Regions from separate parts of the Homo sapiens genome. Here region 1 is linked to region 2. Evidence: fine-mapped expression QTL. A gene starts in region 2. The other region holds a variant in brackets. All regions are shown on one strand. Distances are between the middles of the regions. Region 1 overlaps HECW2 (HECT, C2 and WW domain containing E3 ubiquitin protein ligase 2). Region 2 holds the start of HECW2-AS1 (HECW2 antisense RNA 1).

Region 1 (5,388 bases), 51 kb before region 2:
GAAAGTCTGGTTTGAGGCAGAGGGTGGCTTACACGGTGATATGTTATTTATTGGGCACCACCAATGCCTCACATCAGAGGGTTTGGGGGTTTCACTGAAACTTCAATATATTGCAGTGCTTTGAGGTCAGACCCACCAGGAAGACTCAAAAGGTGCTCAGCTTTCTCTTCTTCTGGGATAGAGTTATGCAAAGAGGCCCTCCCCAAGGAGGCCCCTCACCTATTAGGGAAGTGGCTGCAGGGGTTTGAGCCAACATCATGTGGTCCAGATAGATGTGCTCTATTCAGCATCTGTATTAGACCCAGCAGCACCTTTCCTCTCTGTGCAGGTCACTCTCTTTCTACCCTAGGGACAAGCTACTGAAGCAGTGTAGTTTGAGCTTTGATGGCCACCATGTGGCATGATCATGGTGCACTGCGGCCTCAAACTCCTGGGCTCAAGTGAAGCTCCTGCCTCGGCCTCCTGAGTAGCTGGGACTATAGGCAAGCATGATCATGCCTGGCTGGTTTTTTTGTGTTTTTATTTTTTGTAGAGACAGGGGTCTAACTATGTTGCCAGGGCTGGCCTTGAACTCCTGGCCTCAAGCAATCCTCCCACCTTGGCCTCCCAAAGTGCTGGGATTATAGGTGCGAGCCACTGTGTCTGGCTTTGATTCTTTTTTCTTTCTCTTTATCATTATTATTGTTGTTCTTGTTATTTTAGCACCTTTTCATCATATTTTCAGGGATTTACTTGTTTGCTTTCTTCTTTTTTCATTCTTATTTCTCCCATCTCAAGAAGGGAACAGATCTTGGACTTAGTACTAAGTTTGATCAGTGGTGATGGTGATCTACCAATTGGTTCTCAAAATCTTACTCTTGCCTTAGACCACACAGAGTGCACTGTGGCCTTGGTGGCTTGTGTAACTCCAGCTCTGGTTGAGAGATATTCTAATGATTCGTAAAAAATAAGAAAGTTCCAGGCCTTGGAGTCAGCATGACACTGTTGAGAGCCTCCCAGGGAAGTAGCTTGGACTCAATTATGCCCAGAATGCCTTAAGAATTTTCTGTATCTTCTCATTCTGATGTTACTGATGGTCCTGTCAGCTAGAGGTAGTTGAGGGCTAAAGCCCTCTAAAATATTATCGGTGTGACAAATGTTGGTCTTTTTAGCATTAAGATGAGTGAAAAAACAATCGCCAGCCCAGCCCCTCTGAAAAACTATTTTCTTTTTCTCTTATTGATTCCAGTGTAATTGTGACTTAACCCATTGCTGCATTGGAGACAATATGGAATTGTTGTATAAACGTTTTTCCCCCAAAATGGTAGTTTTTCTAGGAATAGGCCTAGATTCAAGATGAACAGTCTGGGTTAGTGGACTCTGATAGGATCCCAGGATGTTGCATATTGTTAGGACTCGTCTATTACTTATGTGAGGGGTTCAAACTATGGGGGAACATTTATCATTTTTGTGGTTGTATACTTTCATTATTAAAGTATTTTTTAAAATGAAGGCCTAAAACCATGCAGTGAATCTGAAAAGTATAATTAATCTAAACTTAGAATTTCTACTATGTTTAGGGTTAGGGACTCTTATTCTCTAAGGTTACAACTTTGTTTTGAGGAAAAAATGGATACTTTTAAACTAAAAAGCTACCTTATTAAAAATTGAAGATTAAAGTGCCAAATATGCAACTACTTGACTTTTTAAAAAACTTTTTGTTCAAATAAAATAGCAGAAAAGAGCACATATGGCCTCCCGAATTCTTTCTACTAAACATACATGGCAGGCCACGCCATCAGCATTCTAGAAGTCCCCTTTGTACCCCCTTTCAATCACTGACCGCAACTCCGTATGGGGAAATGGACCTACCGTCCTGATTCCTAAAGTCATAGATAAGTTTAGCCTACTTTTGTACTTTATACAAATGGAATTTTACTTCCTTGAGTGTTCAAATAAGAAAAAAATATTTTTAAACACTGTCATCTGTCATTTATCACAAAGCTTATAATTTTCCTTGAAAGTACCTTTAGTTCATTAGAACTTAATCATCTCGCCATTTTGGTGATGATACCTGTGGTTATTATAGTTTTTTATAGTGGATTTATACATTTATTTCACAACAATCAGGTGCTTGATTTTACTAAATCCAATGATAACCAATTCAAAACCCTACCCATAGCACCCCCCCACCCATCCCTGATACGTTGTAATTCATGCTGTTTAGTTGTTAACTTCTCAATATCAGCATCCACTGAGATGTATTCACACCTCATCCGATCATAAGCCAAGTGGTCCAGTGGAGACCGAGGTCTGATTTGAAGGGAGTGGGAAAGGATGATGAGATGAGCAGAGGGATCACAGAAACAACCCTGCGCCCTTCCCACATATGTTGATTTTAAAAACTGTAAACTCTGAAGACCTTACGTTCTACCTGCCTCTGTTCCCTGCTGAGGAGACCAGTGCTGTGACAGTAACCTTGGAGTAGTTTTACCCACTTTCTAATTCTCCGACTTTCCCTTCATGTCCAGCCACTGAAAAGCGCCTATTTATATTTAAGTCTTAGGGTGTCTAAGAGTCTACTTGCACCTGGATTTTAGGCAAGGTTTAGGGTTTTGTTTGTTTGTTGTTGTTGTTGTTTTGAGATGGAATCCAACTCTGTTACCCAGGCTGGAGTGCAGTGGCGTGATCTCAGCTCACTACAGCCTCTGCCTCCTGGGTTCAAGTGATTCTCCTGTCTCAGCCTCCTGAGTAGCTGGGATTACAGGCATGCACCACCACCCCTGGCTGAATTTTGTATTTTTAGTAGAGACAGAGTTTCACCTAGTTGGCCAGGCTGGTCTCAAACTCCTGGCCTCAGGTGATCTGCCCGCCTTGCCCTCCCAAAGTGCTGGGATTACAGGTGTGAGCCACCGCACCCGGCCGCTGAGGTTTAGTTTCTTGTGAGCCCCCATTTCATGGTCTCTGAGAAATCTAGCATTTGCCTCATGGGTTTGTTCAGCAAACTAGCTACTGTTTTAAGTTCTTATTAATTTGTGTCAGTGTTGCTCAAATTTTAGTGTGTCTAGGAATAAGCCGAGAAGGTTGTTAAAAGTGTAGATAACTGAGCCCTAGCTTCAGATAGTCTGATTCTGAAGACCTGGGGTGCATCATAGGAATCTGCATTTTTATTGATCCTCAAAGTGATTCTGGCACATGTTGTCAGAGTCCACCT[A/G]CCTTGAGAAACATTTCTGTAGGTAATAGTTTTCAAACCTTATTATTGTCATGAAGCTATTTATGCAAATGAAATATTATGTGGAACACCAATATACACAGCAATAACATTGGAGCTGTCATGGCTAAAATAGGATTGTCAGGTGTTTGTGGAGCCCTGTCCCTCAGGGACTCAAATCTCCTGGCCCTGTAAGGCTAGCCTAGACATAAAATGTTACTAGGTTCTTGCTGAACTTAATATAATAAAATGGGCATAATTTTATAGATTCCTAGAATACTAGAACTGGAAGAGACCTTTGCAATTGTTTGATTGTGTCCTCTAATTTTTCAAAACTGTGATTCATAGGGGTGTAGTGACTTTTTTTAAGGTCTTGTAGTGAAAGTGTGTCAAGCCACAGCCAGAAATCAGGCCTTCTACCTCCCAATTCAGTGCAAAACACACACACACACACACACAAAATCGTTGCTCTCGTTTTCACTGCACCCTGATTATATAACATATTTGACAATGTGGCAAGACAAGGAAGTAAATGTTAAGTCCTCAGCCTTCTAACTCTGCCTATCTCATTTTAGCATTGTCTATCTGAAAGAAACTTTGATGCTATGAAATGAGTTTTCATATGCTTTCTTATACCAAAAACAAACCAGGCCCAATATAAAGACATATAAGATGTTGGAGCAGTTGTACCCAGCAAAGTAACTTTGATAGATACAACAGAGAGCTAACCTTCCTGCAGGCACCTCTGCTGCCTTTGCCTGGGTAGAATGATATTGACAGCGTGGGTAGAAGTGGATATGTAGTTCATGGATAAACCAATAGCATAACAGCCCTTCCTGATTCAGAGCCAAGCATTCACTTGAAATTGGCACTATAGAATTTGTCTTTATGGGGTCTTGAGTAATTACATCAGTGTGAAGATACAGTATTTGATAGGGATAATTTTAATATGTGTTCAGTGTTCCATGACCTTAGAAAGCAAATTTTTGGTCCTTGTTTTCTTATTCTCCCCATTGCACATTGAAAGGTCTTTATTGAACTATAAATTAAGGCTATTACTGGCCTTTGTAGAAGATGAATACAAGAATCATTCTTTTTTGTGGCTTTGTGTCATTTTAAATTATTTTTTCATTTATTACATGCTATGTGCAAGACACATTAATTTGGCTGTTCTCTCTTCCACCTAGCCATTTTGCTATACATATAGACCTCAAGCAAGCCATAGTCATATTTCACTTGGTAAATTCCTACTTTGTTAGTTCCAGGAAAAAATTCCATCTTTGAGAATTTCTTTCACTGTTTTTGTCAGAAAATGGAAAGTATGCAACAATATGTTTTCTTTTCTGCCATAACTGCCAGAAAATTAAGAGCCAAATTTTAGTAATAATCTAATCTTGGGAGTTTGGCAGCATCTTCTCTCTCTGTTTCCTTTAGCTGGTCTAGTTGGTCTCTATTTTTTTATCCTGAATTGACCTATTCTACATTTTTAAAATTGGGACTACTGTAAACATTCTTTGGAGAAGAATTGGTCATTTCTTTTCATGTGTATTTGATTTGATGTCTATGTGCCTGAATTACCCTGACTCCGATGAGAAAGGAATGAGATGGGGTAATTGGTTCCCAAAATCTTTTGAGATGGAAAAGCATGCAAGGAGCAGAGCAAAACAGTGAAATAAATCAAAGTGTTTTGAAAAATGGTTCCTGAAGATGCTTTAATGTACTTGCTATTTGTGAGCATATCAACAGGCTGGGCGTGAGGTCTTTTGAAAATGTCTTATTGATGGGACTGCAGTGCCCAAAGAATTCAGATTTGGCAGGGTGTTTCATGGTAGAGTCTGTGTTACCTTGGAACATGAATGGCATTGAGTTGTTTGCTGTCTGTGTGGTGCTTTTGTTCAGCCCAATTCCTCTTTCTTTTGCCATTTGTCATAAATTACAATGTGCTGAGATCAACAAAAGATGTCTTTCTGCTCCTAGCTGAGGTGATGGCCTTCAGCAATGGTCTGGTGCAGGCTGAGCTCTACCATGCAGGTCTTTCCAACCCTAAGGACTCTGTTGGGATACTTACCCTGTTCCCTTACAGAGCAAATGCCATAGGTGGTCAGGAGAAAATATGCCCTCCTTCTGGTCTCCAGGATTAGCCCCACTGTGTCTGTTGATAAGCATGTGATCACATGGACAGTTTTGGGATAGTTGAA
Region 2 (5,330 bases):
TGGATTCTGTTTTAGTAAATAATTGGACATTGGCTTTCCAATTCTTTTTTTATTTCTCTGCCACAGGAAAAAAAGAAAAAAAAAAGATAGCAAGATTGTTTATTCCAAACACCGGGTGGAAATTGTTAGGAGCCACATACGTTATTTTGGCCTAAATTAATCATGTCCCTGCTTTGTATTTTACTAAGCACTTATCAGGTAGACAGAAAAGTGTTTTGTACTTGGGGAACACAAAGATAAAGGAGGACGGGCTGAGCACCATAGCTCGTGCCTGTAATCCCAGCTACTTTGGGAGGCCGAGGTGGGTGGATCACTTGAGGTCAGGAGTTCACCTGGCCAACATATGAAACCCTATTTCCGCTAAAAATACAAAAATTAGCCAGACATGGTGGCGCATTCCTGTAATCCTAACTACACTGGAGGCTGAGGCAGGAGAATCACTTGAACCCGGGAGGCAGAGGTTGCAGTGAGTCGAGATTGGGTCTCTTCACTCCAGCCTGGGTGACACAGTGAGACTCCATCTCAAAAAAAAAAAGATAAAGGAGCAAGGGCTTTTGCCCTGAAGAAACTTATGTTTCAAAAGGAATTTAAGTTGTACCTCACTAGCCAAATCAGAAGGTGTACCCATAAAAGTGCTAGAATGTACTCTAAGGGGCACAGAGAGATAAACGTACCCATGTAGAGAGAGCCAAATGATAATACTTTGTATTAGTATAACCTTAATCTTCATTATATTACCACTGAGGTTGAATTGAATTTCTTTGTTAAGAAGAAGCCAGGCTGATGCAGTAAGTAGCTCACTCCTATAATCCTAGTAGTTTGGGAGGCTGAGGCAGGAGGATCACTTGAGGCCAGGAGTTCAAGACCAGCCCAGACAACATAGCAAGACCCTGTCTCTACAAAAATGTTTAAAAATTAGCTGGGTGTGGTGGTACATACCTGTAGTCCCACCTACTCAGGAGACTGAGGCAAGAGGATCACCTGAGCCCAGGAGTTTGAAGCTATAGTGAGCTATGATTGTACCACTGCACTCTAGACTGGGCAACAGAGAGGACTGCCACAGATTCCTTCTAACTGTATACATTATAAACTTGAATAAATATATTAAAGTAATTTTCAAACATTCCTCTAATCATGATCAGTTGTCTTTAACAACATTTCTCAAACTTGTTATGTTATTCCAAACGCTGGGTGGACTCATGAAAATTTGTAAGAGTCACATCTGTTATTTTTCCACTCTAAAAGGAAAAAGAAATATTGCGGACCTATAATGTTGACGTTAGTCACTTTTATTTTAAACTTAAATGTGTACAAATATAAAATATGTATAAACCTCTTATGCTTACAGCTTTTATAAACTACAAAACCAAAAGACATACAAATTAAGTTAAAAACTAGAAAAAATCAATAACATTTGAATTAATGCTATTAATATGAGGATACTTTGTTTTTCAGAAGCCAAATCACCAATGTTGAGACCATTATTGGTGGAAAGACACATTTGCACCTTTCTGTGCTTGTGTTTGACTTGATTCTTTTGATTTTTTGCATCTCTGGCCTAGCATGTGCCTCCTTGGAATTATCAGTCATCATTTTTCCTTCTTAACAAAAAGCTTATTTTTATCTACTGATTCATTGGTTTGATAAGCCAATTCATTTAATAGTGTAACCTGAAATACAATACTGAAGGATAAAACATATCATTGAATGTGCCTTGGGATGAGTGGATTCTACCACCACTTTTCTATTTGCAAACTATTGCAGAGCTTTTGTTCTTAGAATAAGCCAGGATATCTTTTATGCATTATTTAGCATGAATGCATAATTTTCTTTTTAAATCCATCTCTTTTATTTTCTCTTTAGCCTGTGGTAATTTACATATACATTACTTAACCCCACTTGATCATTTTCATGATGCAAGTTAATACTGTAAGAGAAAAGGTTTTTTTAATTGCTAAGCGAAGTGTGCGTAAGTGGCAGATGGGGACTGGTGTTATTATCATATTGAACATCAAGGCCCTGACAGCCTAAGGGCAGCCAGGTGTGTTCGCCGTCCCTTTAAAAGCTCACCTCTGATCACTTTGCACCAAGTGCCCTATAAATACAAACATGGGACCCGAAGTCATATGGCAAGATTCAGTCATAAATGTCATCCATCTCATCTAAAATATTATTATATTGTTTCATGTGCTTTGATCATCGAAGTGAAGACACAAAATTTAAAAATTCTTGCAGAGCTTGAGCTTATGTATGCAAATTTCTAGTAGACCAAGGATGCCAGTTTGAGAATCACTGGTCTATAGCATATTGGGCAAATACCTGGTAACCAAGAAGTGGTTCCTTTGTTTTTCTCAGAAAAGATTGGTGACATTTCCAGGACGTCTGCTGACTTCTGTCTGTTCCTCAGCCTTGATCTGCTCTCTTTACAGGCAGTAAACTAATGCCTTCTTTGTTTCTACGTGAAAGGACTTTATAAAGAACTGTTTAGACCGGGAGAAGGTATAAAGCCTAACCACGCTTCAATTAAGTGAACAGAAGAATTTAAATATTTTCACATCAAATGAGAATTACCTTTTAACTTTCTCTCTTCCACTGCACTGTAAGCTCCTTGAAAAGGGACTTTCTCTTACTCCCCATTGGATTCCCAGCGTGTGGTACCATGACTGGCACACAATAGGCACGCAGAAAATGTTCACTGAAAGAATGACTCAATATCAACATAAGAAAGTACTTACTGGTGTGATGTACATCAGACGACATGTTCCAGTGTCTGGTTCCTGAAAGCATATGACCCATAGCTTGTCATTGTGATGAATTAGCTGGCCTGGTAGAAAATTGGTCTCAGCCTGCCTCTCATATGTTCTTACCTGAAAAATCAGACCAGTTGCCTTCACAGACTGCTAGTTTTTATCTGGAAAGTGATGAAAAGTTTCCCATTTGGCATACCTCCTCTGGTGCCTTTGTCCTTTCTTTTTCTCATCCTATCATCCTTGTGACTCAAGAAGCGATGATGTTTTTCTTATTCACAGGAAACTTCCAAGCCGCAGACCAGGGCCTGATATCTACCATCACTCAACTCCTTCTGTGTAGCTCCAGTTAAGGAAGGAGGGGAGAGTGCTCAGCCTGTTTGTTTTTTGTCTTGTTCTGTTTGCCTGGATTCACTGTGTTGATAGACAAAAGAGATAAGCTGCATATTTGTGGGAGATAGCTTTTGATTCTTCAAGATCAAAGCATGGTGTTACTGACCCTTATAAGAGTAGTTCTTTGGTTAAGTTATTATTCATTTTTCTTCAAGATAACTTTCCTCTGATTTAGCTTTTATCAGCCAACATTTACATCTCTTATCAGAAAAACCATTCACCAGATAATGGGCCTGGGTTTCCATCACGTGTTTCAGATGTATGATTCCAAAACTTGAGGGAAAATGTTCTGCCTGGTTCAAGCCTTCACTGAAATAACCTTAAGCAGAGAGAGGCTGGCCTTCTGAGCAACTCCTTTACGTACATGCCTACCACTAATTTCTAATAGTCTTTAAAAAAAAAATAGTAGTTAGCTGCTGGCAATAAAGTACAGAAAGGAAAGTTTGGCAAATACTAAAGATTAGCTGCTTCATCTATCATATAAAATGGATCTAGCCAGAAGAAACCAAGGACTGAACTCTGTTTGTCATACCTCATAAGCTGTGTGGCTAAGGGCAAATCCATTGACTTTTCTATGCATTAGGGAATTTTTCATGTGAACATGAAACCTTGCCTTCCACCTCAGTGCCTTCAAGTCAGCAAGCAATCTTAAGAAAAATATTTCAAATTTGGGAATATAAAAATCAGTGCAACTTGGCCAGGCATGGTGGCTTACGCCTATAATCCCAGCATTTGAGAGGCCAAGGCAGGCAGCTCACATGAGGCCAGGAGTTTGAGACCAGCATGGCGAACATGGCAAAACCCCATCTCCACCAAAAGTACAAAAATTAGCTGGGCGTGGTGACACATGCCTATAATCCCAGCTACTCAAATGTCTGAGGCAGGAGAATCATTTGAACCCAGGAGGCAGAGGTTGCAGTGAGCCAAGATCATGCCACAGCACTCTGGCCTGGACGACAGAGTAAGGCCCTGTCTCAAAACAAACAAACAAAAAAATCAGTGGAACTTTGTGAAAATATCAAGTAGAAAAACAAGTTGCTTGTAGATAAGAACTAAATCTAAATAAATACTTGTATCAGTGATTGGTATTTTACTTTATGGTATAGGAATCAGAATATATTGTCCATAGCACTCAGAATAAAATTGCATATTTGCATTATCCTGTATATTCCAATGAAATAGAATGATTTTAGTACCATAATTTGTGTTTTTATATTTTTCTTCATCTTATAAAAGTTAATATGGTGTGCTTTGAAATAGCATGATGTAAATAAGGGAAGAAAGCAACTAGGAAAAAAATTATTAAAATTGTATTCATATAACAAATTGAAAATAGTGACATGATGATGACTCATCAAACAAAAAAGAAAAAAGCTGGTATCACATTTACCTATAACAAAATAATGGTAGAAATAACTCACCTTGTGTTTGATATGTATATGTATATATACATTTGCACAGGTATGCACACAATCTATTTCACCAACTGTTGTAGCAAAGTATTTCAGTTTTTTCTTTATTTAAAAAAGGCATATGCTTTTACACTGAATATATACATATGCTTTTACACTGAATATATAATGCATAGATACTATCTGCTTCCAATTAGGAATGAGCTCATCACATGCAACTTAAAGGTATGGCCTCAGGAAAATAGATGACTCTCCCAACACAATCCCTTTTTGGAACAGCAGGGCATCAGCGTAAGACTATATCGCTAAAATTCAGGCCCACAGTCAGCTTTAACTCAAAGCAGACACTGATTTTATTGGTTGAATAGTATACTATTTATAGTACTTGGGCAGCAAAATGATGAAGCCAGTGAAAGAATCTTTCTCCCCACAACATTAGAACTGGGAGGTGTTGATGCTTACAAGATCCCCCCCCTTGAAGGCAAAGACCATGTCTCTCTTGGATGTGTATTCCTAGGGTATTACACAGTAGCTGCCACATAATAGGTACCAAAAAACATCATGACTATTATAAAAAATGCTCTTTACTACTGAGTTATAGCCTAAAGGTCTACCATATACATTTTGTGCTGTTTCTTTTCTTGATTAGGGAGAAGATCCAATTTATCCGAACTGAAGGGACTCCAGGATTGGTGCGCCTTTCAAGCGATGCAGACCTTGTTATGTTGCTGAGGTACATACGTAACACTCACTCTTGAAGCAGAAGGTCTCTTGTCAT

What was found. PIP is the estimated chance that this variant, and not a neighbour inherited with it, causes the effect.
Region 1: its variant is the best candidate, but not a certain one, in a credible set for the expression of HECW2-AS1 in whole blood (INTERVAL, PIP 0.84).

What each region holds. Positions count from the first base shown.
Region 1 is chr2:196,309,030-196,314,417 of GRCh38, reverse strand. All of the region lies in intron 10 of HECW2 (HECT, C2 and WW domain containing E3 ubiquitin protein ligase 2), which reads left to right. Among named protein-coding and RNA genes, the nearest start is that of HECW2-AS1, 52 kb to the right of the region's middle. The variant A/G (reference allele first, on the strand shown) is at 3,194.
Region 2 is chr2:196,257,778-196,263,107 of GRCh38, reverse strand. HECW2-AS1 (HECW2 antisense RNA 1) reads right to left here and starts at 3,084. Exons shown (of 3, transcript NR_110226.1): 1 at 2,868-3,084; 2 at 2,736-2,777; 3 at 1-57. HECW2 (HECT, C2 and WW domain containing E3 ubiquitin protein ligase 2) reads left to right here. Exons shown (of 29, transcript NM_001348768.2): 18 at 5,202-5,285. RefSeq lists an enhancer at 2,416-3,615.